Linked DNA regions of Homo sapiens: region 2 is linked to region 1. Evidence: fine-mapped expression QTL. Tissue or cell type: testis. Region 1 holds a variant in brackets; the other region holds the start of a gene. All regions are shown on one strand. Distances are between the middles of the regions.

Region 1 (8,003 bases):
ACCTGGGGTCTGGCCTCTAGCACCCCACAAAGCTTTGGAGAGCCTTCCTGGGCCTGTCCCTGGTTCTCAGCCCCACCCCCACCTGCTCACCAGACTCTCCAGGCGCTTGGCCACGATGGAGGCGAACCGGCGCTCCCCGGCCAGCTCCGAGATGAGGAAGACATACTCTGGCGCGGAGACCTGGTTGGACCGGTGGGTGCGGCCTGGGGGCAGAGCTGCTCTCAGGGCCCGGCCAGGCGGGGGCGGGGCCGAGACCATGTTGGGGGCGGGGCCAGGCAGCGCTGGGGGCGGGGCCGGACTCACCGAACTGCTGGATGGCGCGGTCGGCGCTCCACGGCAGCTCCAAGGTCATGTGCACGCGGCGCCGCTGGTTCTGGACACGGCGGTCGGCTTGGAGGGAGACACCCGAGCTGGAGGCCTCCGAGATGATGGCCACGAGCTAGGGGGAAAGAAGGGGCCGGGACACGGTTGGTGCAAGGCCCGCCCCAGCGTTGCCGCCACCTCCTCACCCACTAGGCCCCCGCTCCAGGTCACCAGGACGTCCCGGGGCAGCGAGAGGCCTGCGGGGCGCGGACACCACCCGCCACACGGCCACTCGCGCCCGCACCTGGCACACACACACTCCAGAAGTGCGCGGGTCCACAGTCCCCGGGGACCCTTGGGCCCCTCTGTGCCTCTTGGGTCCCGTGGGCCGCGCCCAGTGCACTGCAGCCCCGCACCTTCTCGCCGCTCATGAAGCGCTGCTTCTCCCTGAGGTTCACGTGGTCGATGGACAGACCCTGCTCTGCCCGCGACTCGAAGGCCACCGTCCCGTCGGGCCTGGACACCACGCGGCCTTTCCTGCCGGTCATCTGCAGCCGAGACAGGGACAAAACCGGCCGTCAGTGTTGTGGCCTCGCAGGAGTCTGGCCACCCGTGTCTCAGCTTCCCTATGTCCTACAGTGGTCATGGGCTCCCAGCTGTGCACGGGAGGTGGGGGTGCTGGGAAAGGGAGGGCGGGACTGCTGGACCCAGGCGATGTGTGCCTGTCCAAGGCCTGGTATTATCAGCCAGCCGGCGCCACGAAGTGAAAAAGTGAAGCTGGGCGGGGGCAGGGAGTAGGAGGCCGCAGAACCAGGCCCAGGGGCTTGTGTCCTGGCCCTGGGCACCCCAAGGGGTGCGTTCAGGCAACGATCTAAGCAGAGGCCTGCGCAGGCCAGGCTGGGGGATCTGGGGCTTAGAGGGATGGGGCAGGCCGTCCACAGGAGGTCGTGGCCTCCCGGGCCGAGCTGGACAGCACGCTGCTGCCCCAGGGCTCCCCAAACGCCCCCTCCTCGCAGGGCCGCGGAGACGCAGAGTGACCAGCAGGGGCCACCAGAGCTGCACACAGCCTGCGTGAAGCCCCACCCACTGCCCATGCCCCGCCCACCACACTCCAGCTGCCACGTCCCACCCACCTCCGCCACCCGCTGGGGGCCGCCCAGCTGGTCGATGAGCTCGTCCAGGGTGTTGACTGGCAGTTCCCGGCCCAGCCGCCGCACTTTGTCCAGCAGATCCTGCTTCAGCCGCTCCACCCGCTCCAGGACCCCGGGGCCATGCGGGTCTCTCTGCAGGAGGCACAGGGGTCCTAGGGAGGAGGTGGAGGGTCAGGGCAGGACATGTTGGCTGCCTTCTAGGGCCCACCTAACTCAAGGCTGGCCCCTGGAGGGCAAGGACAAGGGGCCCGGGGCAACCCTGAGGGACGGCAGGGTGGCGGGGAAGCCCGGCACCGTGGCCCAGGACTGCTTTTCTGCACTTGTCTCCCTGAGACCAGCTGGGGCGAGACTAAGCCTCCTGTCGCGGACCAAACACTGTGACCTCACTGCCTCCACAGGGGTAGGGACTGCCCAGCCCCAAGCCCCAGCTCTGCCTCTGACCAGTGGTATAACCCCTGACCTCCCCTCTCTGGGCCTCAGTTTCCCCCATCTGTAAAGTGGGCACCATAGCAGCAGCTGGGCTCAGGTGGGCTGGACTGAGGGCTACAACCTGGGGTGGGTGGTGACCGCCAGGAGGCCGGGGGAGCCTCAGGCTGGAATCCTGACCCAGAGGTGGCTGCTCAGCCTGGACTGGAATCCTGACCCACAGGTGGCTGGCCAGCCTGGGCAAGCCCTCACCCCGGTCGTCACTGGGGAGCCCGACTGCATCAACGATGACAACGTCGTCATCCACCAGGGACTCGGGGGAGGAGTTGAAGTCGCTGTCCAGGCCAGGGTCCGACTCCGTGCTGCTGTCGTCACTGATGCGGATGACGCCCGCTGTCTCGCACGCCAGCCGGGGGGCTTTGGCCCCGCGTCCCCGAGGTCGCCCTGCAGGGAAGGACAGGGTCACCGAGGGCCAGACCGCAGCAAGGTGGAGGAGCAGGTGGAGGAGACGCAGCAGGACAGAGCAAGGCCAGTGGTCCGAGCTGGGGAGGTCCATCCGAGAACCCCCTGCCTCTGGGCAAGCAGCTCAGCTGTTCTCCAGGGACGCCCTCTAGGGAACCCCGTGCCCTGTGGCCAGGAGGGTACGGTGTGGGGGGCCATATTTTATTTATTTATTTTCTTTTGAGACGGAGTCTTACTCTGTCGCCAGGCTGGAGAACGGTGGCATCTCACTGCACTCTCTGCCTCCTGGATTCAAGCGATTCTCCTGCCTCAGCCTCCTGAGTAGGTGGGATTACAGGCGCCCACCACCACGCCTGGCTAATCTTTTGTATTTTAGTAGAGATGGGGTTTCACCATGTTGGCCAGGATGGTGTCGATCTCCTGACCTCGTGATCCACCTGCCTCAGCCTCCCAAAGTGCTGGGATTATAGGCGTGAACCACCACGCCTGGCTTATTTATTTATTTTTGAGATGGAGTTTCACTCTGTTGCCCAGGCTGGAGTGCAGTGGTGCGATCTCAGCTCACTGCAACCTCCACCTCCCGGGTTCAAGCAATTCCCCTGCCTCAGCCTCCTGAGCAGCTGGTATTACAAGCATGCACCACCACACCTGGCTAATTTTTCTATTTTTAGTAGAGATGGAGTTTCACCATGTTGGCCAGGCTGGTCTCAAACTCCTGGCCTCAGGTGATTTGCCCGCCTCAGCCTTCCAAAGTGCTGGGATTACAACAGGCGTGACCCACTGCACCTAGCCAATATTTTATTTTTATTAATTTTTTTGAGACAAGAGTTTTTTCTGTCACCCAAGTTGGAGTGCAGTGGCATGATCTCGGCTCACTGCAATCTCCACCTCTCAGGTTCAAGCGATTCCCCTGCCTCAGCCTCCCAAGTAGCTGGGATTATAGGCGTCCACCACCACGCCCAGCTAATTTTTGTATTTTTAGTAGAGACAGGGTCTCACCATGTTGGCCAGGCTGGTCTTAAACTCCTGACCTCAGGTGATCCACCCGCCTCGGCCTCCCAAAGTGCTGGGATTACAGGCGTGAGCCACCACGCCCAGCCAACGGGACAATATTAATAAACCCATATCCAACGTCCTTTCAGGCCTGGCCAGTATGGTGGACACGCGGGGTGCCTGGGGAGGCCACACACCAGACTTCGACAGGCAGCTCTGGGCTTCCCTGTGACAGAAGCCTGGGGGTTATCAATGGGCTCCCCAAGGGACCGTGGAGACCCTGAAAACGGAAGGTGGGAGGGGTCTCGCTCAGCACCCGCGTCCGTGTCCCGCCCCCCGGGTCTCGCTCGGCACCCACGTCTGTGTCCTTCAGGCTGTCTGTTGCTTCCTCTTCCCTAAGCGTTCCATGGCAGGGTCCACGCAAGACCTGCCACTGGCAGCGGAGCCTTGAGCCTGCCTGGCACGGACAGGACCTGCATTTGGCTGAGTGGACGGGGGAGTGGGGGAAGCAGGGAGCGACCAGCCAGCCCCCGGGGGGAGAAAGCAGAGGGGCAGGGGTGGGTGGGGCCATGGGGGGCAGGGCTTACGTTTCCGCTTGCTGCCCGCTCCTCTGTCCCGCTTTCTCTTGGTGGACGGAAAGTGCTTCTGAATTAGCGACAGGAACACGCCTCTGAAAGTGAGACGCGGAGTTTATTCTCACACGAGGAGCTGAGGCCAGGCGGGGTTGCTCTCCAGGAGCTGGACGCACCCCTGGGTCCCTGTGGGGGTCCCGGACAGGACCGGGCCTGGGCAGAGGGTCTCCTGTGTGGAGTGGGCTGGGGAGGACTGGGGGCTGCCTGTGAGCTCTCCTCTGGCCTCCTGGTGTCACAGGGCCACCTCGGCCACCAGGCTTCCCCCGCTCTGAG[G/A]AATGTGGCCGGATATGATGATGGCTCCCAGGACAGGGGCAGGGGGCAGGGTGAAGGGGTAGCTGGGGGCATTGGGGAGCTCCGACCCCCAGGCAATGGGGGGATCTAGGGGGGCTGCTGTGACCCTCCCGGGGCATTCTCAACCAACAGGGGAGAGGCTGGGGCTTCAGACAGCTGGGAGGGCCAGCCCCTAAAATCCACAGCCCCCTTGTTAAAACGGCACAGATGCAGGAAGCCTCCTTCTGAGACCCCTGGAGACCATGTCCCAAACCTTCCAGGCCCACCATGCCTGGGGTCCACCTCCAAGCCTCTGCTTTAGACCTGGAGCAGCGGTGAAGGCCTCTGTGGCTGAGGCTGGGGGCCCAGCAAAGCCCACCCCAGCACCTCCTGCTGCTGGGGCCAAGGGGCAGGGTCAGGCCACAGGTGGCCACAGAGAGGGGTGGCCATGAGCGCAGGAAGCCCACAGTCCTGTCCCCACCGTGACACTTACTCAGCGGCCGAGACGAAGCAGTTGAGGTGCCCATCGTTCTCCCCCAGCACCTCCCGCGTGCGCGCCTCGCCCGTGGACTGCAGCCCGATGACCACGCACTGTGGGACGGCAGAGGACTGTGAGCCACCAGCCCTGCTGTGGGGCCTCTGTGGGGCCAGAACCTGCCAGGCCTGGGGTGATGGCCACATCCCTCACTCTGCTGCTGTGCTCGCCTCCCCAGGAGGGGCCACGGCCCCCCTACAACACACACTGCTGGGTGGGGGTCTGCCGGCTGCCTGTCTCGGGATGGTGAGCTGCCCACTGTGTGGTCACACTCCGCTGTTCTGACACCCTGGCTGGCTCTGATTGGAAGACGGACATCCGGGCGTCTCTCACCCACCAGGGTGCAGCCCCCGCCCACGTCTGGGGAGGGGCCAGGAAGGACCTGGAAGAAGAGCAGCCTCCGCCCCTGCAGGCCCGGCCGCCCTCAGCCCTCGAAGGCCGCAGCCGCTCACCTTGTCTCGCGCCAGCTCCTCTCGGGCCAGCTCCACCAGCCGGCGCACCTTGGCTGCGATGCACAGATACTTGAAGAAGCGCTGGTGTGCCGACCAGAACTGGCCCCACAGGGACTTGCGCGACTCCAGGCCGATCCAGTCGGCCGCCTGCTGGAACACGTTCAGGGCCTCGGCCCACTGCAATGACACGTCACAAGGCGCCCCTGAGCTGTGGCTCCTGGCTCCCGACCCGGGCCCCGGCCCACCTGCCGCCAGCCCTGGGCAAGGCATCCCCACGCCAGGTGGAATTTAGGGCAGGATGGGGGTGCTGGGGGTGTGCACTGTAAGAGGCACTGCCTCTACCTGTACGGCAAAAACCTGAAAAACCAAAACACTCGTGGTGGGGAAGCCGTGCTGCAAACTGCACAGACTCCGCGCCCGCGGCAAACAGGCTCAGCTCCTTCCAAGAACACAGGGTGCTCGCAGCCACGCCTCTCTTGCTTTGGACCAGGGTCTCACCCAGGTGTGATCCTGTCCAGGGGACACTGGGCATGTCTGGGGCTGGCTGTGGTGGTCAGGTTTGGGGGCTGGTCCCGGCATGACTGGGTGGGCTGGGTTAGGGTGGCTGGGACTCTGGCCACGGATGCTGCTCCATACCCCAAAGTGCTCAGGACGGCCCCACCCCGGAGAGCAACCCGGCCCTGGGGGTTACGGGAGATGCTGGTTGTGTCACCTAAAGAAACGAGTGAAGAGGCTGGGTGTGGTGGCTCACGCCTGTAATCACAGCACTTTGGGAGGCTGAGGCGGTCAGATCGCCTGAGCTCAGGAGTTTGAGACCAACCAGCCTGACCAACATGGAGAAATCCTGTCTCTACCAAAAATATAAAATTGGCCGGGCTGGTGGCACATGCCTGTAACCCCAGCTACGCGGGAGGCTGAGGCAGGAGAATTGCTTGAATCTGGTAGGCGGAGGTTGCGGTGAGCCAAGATCGTGCCATTGCACTCCAGCCTGGGCAACAAGAGTGGAAACCCCGTCTCAAAAAATAAAAAAAAAAAACCATCGAACATACAGGGCTGTTGGGCGTGAGGGGGAGAAAACAGGACCTGTCCAAACATGGAGGGAACGACCAAGCCACATGGCCCACAGCAATGTGGATGCTGAACACGGCTACCAACTGCCAGCTGTGGGCCAGGACCTGGGGGCAAAGGGCTTGGGCACCACAGGAAGGGGGGCGGTGGTTTGGTCCCATCCCTCGTTATCACAGCCACATAAAAACCCCAGTGATGGCCGGGCACGTGGCTCACGCCTGTCATCCCAGCACTGTGGGAGGCCGAGGCGGGCAGATCACTTGCGGTCAGGAGTTTGAAACCAACCTGGCCAACATGGAGAAACACCGTTCTCTACCAAAAAATACACAAAATTAGCTGGGTGTGGAGGCGGGCACCTGTAACTCCAGCTACTCGAGAGGCTGAGGGGGGAGAATCGCTTAAACCCAAGAGGCAGAGGTTGCAGTGAACTGAGATCACACCACAGCACTCCAGCCTAGATGACAGCACGAGACTGTCTCAAAAAAACAACAAAAAAAAAACCCCAGGACAGGACAGGGCGGGCCGTCACCTGATGACGCCTGTGGCATCTGCAAGGCCACGGGGGAGCAATTTCACCCGGGAAACGCACAGGGGTCCCCGGGTCGGGTGCGCAGGCTCACCAGCAGGGCCGCGCGGTTGTAGACGCACTCGAAGGCTGGGGCCAGCGGGATCTCCTCGATGCGGAAGGTGACGCCGGAGAAGCTGAGCTGGCGTGCGATGTACATGCCGCTGACCTTCATGTCCATGGCCACGATCTCCATGGCGCCAACGCCCCTGCGGATGGACACAGCCCCCGTGAGCACGGCCAGAGCCCGTGGGGATGGAGCCACTCGGAGCGCGAGGCAGAGCCAGTCGCAGAGAGGGCGGGGTCGGCAGGAGCAGAGCCCTGGCGGCCACTGAGGCAGTTGGCAGCTGAGCCTGGCGGGGACGGGGCAGGAAGGGCTGCGGAGGGGCTGGCTTCCCTGGGAGTGCTGGGCAGCCCGAGGCAGTGAAACGAGCGACCCACATTCAGCACCTCTGGGTGCTGGGGAAGCACACGTGGCAGTGCCAGGCCTTGGGCTGATGGGCCTGAGGCCTCCTCCCCACCCCCCGCCGCCCCTCCACGTGGGTGAGAAGGGCACTCACCTCTTCTCGATGGCGTGCAGGAACTCCTCAAAGTTCCGGAAGGGTGTGCCCTCGCCCCAGATACCCAAGCGGCTCATGTAGATCATGTTCCGAGGCTCAGAGGCACCTGTGGGGGGAAGCTGCCGTCAGCTCCCCAACCCGGGAGGGCCCAGAGGCCGCGTCAGGGGACGACTAAGTTGGGACCACCCGACGAGGGGCCCTGCGGGGTTGGAGCCATGGGCCTGAAGAGAGCCAGCGTGGCCTTGGGACAGGCGCAGAGGTGCCCCAGTGTCCGAGGAGGAGCAGGGTGCAGACGGAGGCTGAGTACGCGTGTGGGATACCCCTTCGCGGGGACAGCCAGGCAGAAAGACGCTGCTGCGGGTGGGTCACGTGGGATCCGCACCGCCCCACCTGTGGCGCTGGCGTAGACCACGCGGGCCAGGGGCAGCTTGTTCTGCAGGTCTAGCACAGCCTTGCCCATCTTGGTGGAGCCGGCATTCTTGGCTTTGTGACACTCGTCGAACACGATCTGAGGCACACGTGGGTTAAGGAGTATTCTGAAGGACGGGGGCGACCCCAGGAGCCCAGGTCCTGACCACCCAAGACC
Region 2 (8,003 bases), 21 kb before region 1:
GCTGCATCTCTGCCGGCCCCACGCAGGCGGGATTCCGCGGCGCGCGCCCACCTCGTGCTCCGTGATGTTGATGAGCAGCTCCTGCTGCAGAAACTGCTCCAGGATGTACTTGGGGGCCATGTCGACCAGGGACTGGAAGAGAGCGGCTCTAAGGCACGGCCCGGAGGGGCCCAGACAACCCCAACCCCATTTCCTGCCTCAAGCTACCTGGGGCTTACTCGTGTGCCCCAACAACACACCCACGTCGTGAATCAGAAAACCCCACCGCCAGCCCAGGAGCCTTCAACAGCCCGCCCCTCCCCAGCCTCTCTGCTCATCGAGAGCCTCATCCAGCAGTGAAGTGGCCGTGGAAACTCGGATGTGTTTCCATCCATCACACGCTTCCAGGGGCGGCCCTCAGAGCTGGCAGGGCGACCTCTTCCCCATACAGGGGTGCTGCTCTGTGTGGCTGCGTGAACCCCACAGCTGGTGGGCCAGGGACTAAACTGCTCTGCTGACTGCCCGTCACAGCACAGCAGCCTGGCTCCAGAGTGTCCGACAGACAGACGGGGAACACGGATAGGCCCCTGGAGGACCCCGTGCCGGGCCTCCTCTGCAAGTCCCCCTGGACATCAGCTCAGGATAAAGAACCTCCGGCTCCTGGAATCTGCACCAGGCCGAGGGCTGGAGCCCACAGGAGCTGGCGAGAGGCACAGTGCCCTCCGCCCTGACGCCCCTCCTGAGAGCTGGGGGAGGACGGCGGCTGCCTGGGGTGGGGCCCATGGACGCGGTGGGAGGGAGGCGGTCGGGGCTTGCCGGACATCCCGGCCACATCCTCCAGGGCACCCTGGCTGGCCTGGCCCAAAGCCCAAGGCACGTGGGCCGCCTGTGGGTACTGCTTGCGGGAGGAGGCTGGGGAGGGGGAGAGGCTGGCGGGGTGGGGCAGGGGTGCCCACCTGCTTGGCGGAGGGTGTCATGCCCTGCTGCACCACGATGAGAGCCCGTGTGATGTTCTCCTCCTGCATGCGCTGGCAGTACACCTTGATGGTCTTGATGCCCACCTTGGGCTCCTCTGCAGACAGAGAGTGTGCTGGCCTGCACGAGCCTGGGCCCTCGTGGCCCTCGCCCACCCAGAGCCCAGAGCACCCAGGTTCCAGCCCCATTCCACACAGGTGTCTCTCCTGCTCGGGCCTCGGCTTCCGCGTTTGCAAAACGAGGCCTGAGTTGCAGGATCCCAGGACAGGGGAAGAGAGGGCTGAAACCTCTCATTCACCCGGAGACAGGGACAGGGGGCTGACACCCCTCAGTCACCCAGAGACCAGGGAGAAGCAGAGACCTTCGACTCTGAGAGGCTCCCACCCTGGGCAGTTCTGGGGAGGCGGGTGACTCAGCACCAACCTCTCCAACAAGCAGACCTCACACCCCAGGACGCTCTCTTTAAGAAGCATCACCTGAGGCCGGGTGCGGTGGCTCACACCTGTAATCCTAGCACTTTGGGAGGCTGAGGCAGGTGGATCACTTGAAGTCAACAGTTCTAAACCGGCCTGGCCAACATGGTGAAACCCGGTCTCTATTAACAATACAGGATGGGCGCGGTGGCTCGCACCTGTAATCCCAGCACTTTGGGAGGTCAAGGTGGGCAGATCACGATGTCAGGAGATCGAGACCACCCTGGCTAACAAGGTGAAATCCCGTTTCTACTAAAAATACAAAAAATTAGCCCACGCCCGCAGTCCCAGCTACTCGGGAGGCTGAGGCAGGAGAATGGCGTGAACCCGGGAGGCAGAGCTTGCAGTGGGCAGAGATTGCGCCACTGCACTCCAGCCTGGGCAACAGAGCAAGACTCTGTCTCAAAAAAATTAATTAATTAATTAATAAACAATACAAAAAGAAAAAGTAGCCAGGTGAGATGGTGTATGCCTGTAAACCTAGCTTTTTGGGAGGCTGAGGTGGAAGGATTGTTTGAACCTGGGAGGTGGAGGTTGCAGTGAGCTGAGATTGCGCCACTGCACACTCCAGCCTGGGTGACAGAGGGAGACTCAGTCTCAAAAAAAAAAAAAAAAAAAAAGACTGGGCGCGGTGGCTCACGCCTGTAATCCCAGCACTTTGGGAGGCCGAGGCGGGCGGATCACCTGAGATTAGGAGTTTGAAAGCAGTCTAGCCAACATGGTGAAACCTCATCTCTACTAAAATGCAAAGAAAAACTAGCCAGGCGTGGTGGTGGGTGCCTGTAATCTCAGCTACTCAAGCTGAGGCAGGAGAATCGCTTGAACTCAGGAGGTGGAGGCTGCAGCAAGCCGAGATGGCACCACTGCACTCCAGCCTGGGCGACAGATTGAGACTCTTTTTCAAAAAACAAAAACAAAAAAAAAACAAAAAAACCCAGCAGCGTCACCAGGTCCGGTTGGCAGACGTGCTCCGTCACCCCACTGATTAATTCTGGGCGTGGGGCTGCGCCCCTAAGGCGCTTGCAATCCCCCAACCGCTGAGGGCTTTAGAGCCATACTAGGGAGGCAGACAGGTGCGGAGACTTCCGCAAAGCAGGTGCTGAAACCGAGGGTCCCAGGGGTCCTGGGAAAAGAGGCCCGAGCACAAGCTCGAGGGACGAGTACCGGACGCTGACAGGGGAGAGGGGGCATGGGGTGCGGAGGAATGGGCTGGGGCGGGCAGGGGCCGCAGCTCACAAGGAGGCTGCGCTGACCCAGACGGGGCCTCCTGGGCCAGGCCAAGAAGCTGGAAGTGCACCCAACGGCCAGGATGGGGGAGCCAAGGGACACTAGGGCAAAGGACATGGGGGGCTGGGGGTGAGTGGGGAGGCCCTTGTGACTCTCCTCGTTGGCAGGAAGAGAGAAGGGGACTGAGAGGGAAACTAGAAAGAAGCTGAGCATGAGAGGGGTCAGAGATCAACGGCATCACCCACAGCAAGGAAGGGGAGGGGAGTTTTCCTCCCAGACTGGGCAGAGAGACAAATGCTGGGCACCAGGCGAGTGGGGGTGGGTGCTAGCGACCGGCTCCTCGGCAGGTGCTCTGGTGGCTTCACCGGAACTCCCCCGGGACCCGCTGCTCACCTGGAAAGAACACAAACATCTGGTCGGTGGGGTCATCGTTGTGGGCCACCAGCACGGTGAGGTCCGTGCGCCGCGGCCGCCCCTCACTCGGCTTGTCCCCAGATTGGGCTTTGAACTCCTCCAGGGTCTGGTCAAGCTCGTCCTGGGTCACCAGATAGCCACGGTCGTGGCACAGCTGCAGAGAGAAAGAACCAGCTGACCCCAGGGCAGAGAGAGGAAGGCGGCCAAAGCTCGTGACCCGGAAGTCAGACCTGCGGCTGCTGCAGAGGACAGAGGTGAACAGCAAACGGGATGAACACTCACTGTGTGCTCCATGACAGCCACCCCGGCCCCCACAGCCTCACACCACAGGATGGGACCAGTATGATCCTGAGAGGCTCCCAGAGATGTCCAGCCTTGACCAAGACCGTCTGTCCACCCAGCCTCACAGAAACCTGGCAGGGAGCAAAGCCCTCCAAACCACTTTGCAGAGCTACCCTAAAGGCAGGGACAAAGGCGGGGCGCGGAGGCTCACGCCCGTGATCCCAGTACTTAGGGAGGCTGAGGCAGGAGGGTTGCTGGAGGCCAGTTCAAGGATGCAGTGAGCTATGATTGCACCACTGCACTGCAGCCTGGGCGACAGAATGAAACCCTATCTCTTAAAAAAAAAAAATGACAGGGACCGAAACAGATGTGACTTCAGGCTGACAATGTTTGAGGATCGGAGAAAGAAGAATCAGGCTGCGGGGGGCTTCGCTGAGGACAAGGGCAAAGGGTGGGAAGCAAGACAAAGCAAAAGCTCTCAAACGGCCCCAATGGCTGAGGCAATACCCTGAACCGCAGGTCCTCAGGCCTGTGCCCGGCTTCCAAACCGGACTCGACCCAGTGGCCTCCATCTGCCCCAGACCCCAAGGCACGGGTTCCGAGCTCCACGTCCCCATCGAAAGCCCCAGCTCGCCCGCTGCTTCCCAACCACCAACTCTGCCAGCCTCGGATGCTGAAGACTCCATGGGGTTCAGGACGCAAGGACAAATAGCGACGCTGAATCACAGAGAAGGGCAGAGTCTGGGGGCGCCCCCCGTCCCCATTCGCGGCTTCCTCCTCCTCTCGCCGCCACGCGCGCCGCACCAGCCCAAGCCGCCCACCCACCCCTAAGCACCGCACCCAGACGTCTCGAAACCCCCTCCCTTCCCCGCTGCCGGCTCAGGTCGGGTCCAGCGCCTGGTATCCCCGGCGACCTCTGGGCCTCCCGTATCGGCCCGGCCCTTCATCGCTGCTGCTCCGACGAGAGTACGAGGAGACGCCGTGCTCGACCCCACCTCGGGCCCCTACACCCGCCGCCCGCGCCCCCGCCCCCAACACCAGGCGCGGCTCACCTGCATGATGGTCTTGCGGATTTTCCAGAGCCGGTACGTCTCCTCCTCGTCGTCCATGGCAGCCTCCGCCGCCGCCGCCGCTCGCACCCCTTCTCCGCGCGAGAACCCGCGCGGACTGCGCCTGCGCCGAATCCGAATCAGGCCCCCTCCGCCTAACCCCGCCCCGCGCTGGTCTGTCGTCGGCGAATGCCTGAATGCAGCAACGTCTCGGATCGGCAGCGCCAAGGGCAGCCCGAGCCTTACGAGAGCGGCAGTTGGCTGAGCGAGTCTCTCGCCTCCGTAGTTCTCGTGTGTCTTTGGCCGCACAGCCTCTCGGGAGTTGTAGTTTCCGTTCAACTCCCACCTTGGAGCAACAGTTTAGAATCCCACGAGGCGGGGGCGAAGTGTGAGCGGGGAAACTGAGGCCTGGATGGGGTCAAGGGGCAGCTCGGCTCCTAGGGATGGTCTGGGAGCCTAGTGGGAACTCTATAAATATTTGTGCATCAAACTGTACAGGGTTTCCTCCATTGGCTCCTGGCCAGGTCAGGGTTAATTCCCTTGGGCCTCAGTTTCCCTACCTGTGCAATGGCAATAAAGTGTCCCTACTTTAGACGGTTAACTGAGAGTCTTAGGCATCTCTCTAGGTGCTTATTAAGTCCCCTCACCTCTGTCCTCTCCCCTGAGCGCCACCAGCCTAGCCTGGGTATCTCCCCAGCCTAGCCTGGGTATCTCCCCACCCCAGACTCTTCCTGTCTTTGCAAACCTCCTCACTTCCCCAGGTTCACGGAGAACCCCAGCCCAACACTTCCTGTGTGCAGGCTATCAGTAACTTATTCAGTGATGCATTCGTTAATTCAACATTTACTCAGCAACCTACAGTGATGGTGAATAAAACAGGCCAAGTATCCCTTGCATTCAGATAAAGACAGGATTTAGTAAAATATAATAAATAACGTGGCCGGGCGCGGTGGCTCATGCCTATAATCCCAGCACTTTGGGAGGCTGAGGCGGGCAGAGCATGAGATCAGGAGTTCAAGACCATCCTGGCTAACACGGTGAAACCCCGTCTCTACTAAAAATACAAAAAATTAGCTGGGCCAGGTGGCAGGTGCCTGTAGTCTCAGCTACTTAGGAGGCTAAGGCAGGAGAATCTCGTGAACCTGTAAGGTGGAGGTTTCAGTGAGCCAAGATCGTGCCACTGCACTCCAGCCTGGACAACAGAGCAAGACTCTGTCTCAAAAATAAAATGAAATGAAATAAAATAAAATAAATAACAACGTTAGAAAGTGACAAAGCTACGGAAGAAGAAAGAGCAGGGAGGCTAAGTGACATGGGGAGAATGGGAGAACTGCAGTATCACATGGGGAGGTCAGGGAATACAGTGAGGATAGATTCAAGCAAAAATCCCATTAGCAGTGGTGGCTCATCACTGTAATCCCAGCACTTTGGGTGGCCGAGGCAGGCAGAGCATGAGATCAGGAGTTCCAGACCAGCTTGGCCAACATGGTGAAACCCTGTCTCTACTAAAAATACAAAAATTAGCCAGGTTTGGTGGTGGGTGCCTGTACTCCCAGTTACTCGGGAGGCTGAGGCAGGAGAATCACTTGAACCCGGGAGGCGGAGGTTGCAGTGAGCCGAGATCGCACCACTGCACTCCAGCCTGGGTGACAGAGCAAGACTCCATCGAGAAAAAAAAAAAAAAATCCCATTGGGCGCGATAGCTCACACCTGTAATCCCAGCACTTTGGGAAGCTGAGAGGGGAGGATCCCTTTGTTGTAGTTTTGTAATTTTTAGTTGTAAGTCACGGACTTTTTTACACTGATATTTGAGATTCTTTTTGGGGGGCTGTCAGGGGCTACTTTTTTTTTTTTTCCTGACACGGAATCTCGCTCTGTCCCCCAGGCTGGAGTGCAGTGGCAGGATCTCGGCTCACTGCAAGCTCCACCTCCCGGGTTCACGCCATTCTTCTGCCTCAGCCTCCCGAGTAGCTGGGACTACAGGCACCTGCCACCACGCCCGGCTAATTTTTTGTATTTTTAGTAGAGACGGGGTTTCACCGTGTTAGCCAGGATGGTCTCCATCTCCTGCCCTCATGATCCGCCCGCCTCGGCCTCCCAAAGTGCTGGGATTACAGGTGTGAGCCACCCCGCCCGGTCTGTGCAGGCTTTCTTATCTAACTACCTAACTTTTCTTTCTCACCTTGAGGCCAGGAGTTTGAGACAAGCCTAGGCAACATAGGAAGACCCCATTTCTTTTTTGTTGTTGTTGTTGTTTTTTGAGACCGAGTCTCGCTCTGTTGCCCAGGCTGGAGTACAGTGGCATAATCTCAGCTCACTGCAGCCTCCGCCTCCTGGGTTTAAAGGATTCTCCTGCCTTGGCCTCCCGAGTAGCTGGGATTACAGGCGTGAGCCACCACACCTGGCTAATTTTTTTGTATTTTTGGTAGAGATGGGGTTTCACCATGTTAGCCAGGCTGGTCTTGAACTTCTGACCTCAGATCATCTGCTTGCCTCGGCCTTCCGAAGTGCTGAGATTACAGGCGTGAGCCACCGCACCCGGCCAGGAAGACCCCATTTCTACAAAAAAATTTAAAAATTAGCTGGGCGTGGTGGGCGCACCTGTAGTCCCAGTTACTCGGGAGGCTGAGGTGGGAAGATCTAGGATCGCCTGAGCCCAGCGGTTGAGGCTGCAGTGAGCTGTGATTGCGCCACTGCACTCTAGCCTGGGCGACAGAGCAAGACACTGTCTCCAAACAAACAGAAAACAAACAAAAACCAGAAGAGGAGAGGGAGGAAACCTGGGGTTGCCTGGGGATAGCTGTATCAGGCAGACAGCACAGCCAGGATAGAGGCTCTGGGGCTGTGCCTCACCTGGAGTGTTCCTGGCAGGGAAGGGGCAGGAGGGGGTCAGAGGGCAAGGTGGGGCAGGTCCCATGAAGCCTTGCTGGTCAGGGTAAAATGTCTGGAGCTGCTGTGTTGGGAAATGACTGTTGGGAGCCAGGGCAGAAGCAAGAGACCAGGGAGGGAGTGGGAAGGCAAACTTGCCACAGGTTGGGGTGGCTCCAACTACGGTAGGGGCAAGCACAGAGCGGGGAGGGTGCCACAGGGCGAGAAAAAGAGGGAGAAAGGGAACAAAGCTGTCCCTGTGAGCAGTGAAAAGAGGGGTGGGAGGGTGGAGGCGTGTAGGTCGAGGTGAGCTCTGGAGTTCAGGGCAAGGTCTGGGGGATGGACGTGCAGGCAGGGTGGCCACGTGGTGAAGATTAGAGCCGGGAGCCTGGACCAGGTCCTGGGAGCAGAGCAGAGTCCAGGAGAGTAAGTCCAGCCCTGCTGGTGTTCAGAAGCCCGGAGAAGGAGGGGAGGCAGCAGCAGGAGGGGAGGGAGGCTCAGCACAGACACTGGAGCAGCCCCTGAGCTGCAGACCTGGCTGTGTGATCTCAGGCAGGTTACTCAACCTCTCTGTGCGTCCCCTCTCCCCTCCCTTGTAAAACAGGGACAAGAACAGCACCCACTTCGTAGGGTAATTGGCTAATAATTGCAATGTACACAGAGTGGCGCCTGACACCAGCACTGCATAAGTGTTCCCTAAATAGGATAAAGGGCAGGAGGTTGCCAGGTCTCCTGG

Evidence for each region. PIP is the estimated chance that this variant, and not a neighbour inherited with it, causes the effect.
Region 2: POLR2E starts here. The variant in region 1 is fine-mapped to the expression of POLR2E in testis (GTEx, PIP 0.99).

What each region holds. Positions count from the first base shown.
Region 1 is chr19:1,112,099-1,120,101 of GRCh38, forward strand. It overlaps SBNO2 (strawberry notch homolog 2), which reads right to left. Exons shown (of 32, transcript NM_014963.3): 12 at 7,808-7,925; 13 at 7,418-7,523; 14 at 6,913-7,066; 15 at 5,225-5,401; 16 at 4,731-4,828; 17 at 3,923-4,005; 18 at 2,133-2,324; 19 at 1,437-1,606; 20 at 720-851; 21 at 304-439; 22 at 91-203. Among named protein-coding and RNA genes, the nearest start is that of GPX4, 12 kb to the left of the region's middle. RefSeq lists enhancers at 1-581, 582-1,501, 4,810-5,323, 5,324-5,836. The variant G/A (reference allele first, on the strand shown) is at 4,241.
Region 2 is chr19:1,090,857-1,098,859 of GRCh38, forward strand. It overlaps POLR2E (RNA polymerase II, I and III subunit E), which reads right to left and starts at 4,519. Exons shown (of 8, transcript NM_002695.5): 1 at 4,403-4,519; 2 at 3,048-3,222; 3 at 936-1,051; 4 at 52-132. The coding sequence starts at 4,459. RefSeq lists enhancers at 3,170-3,705, 4,463-4,552.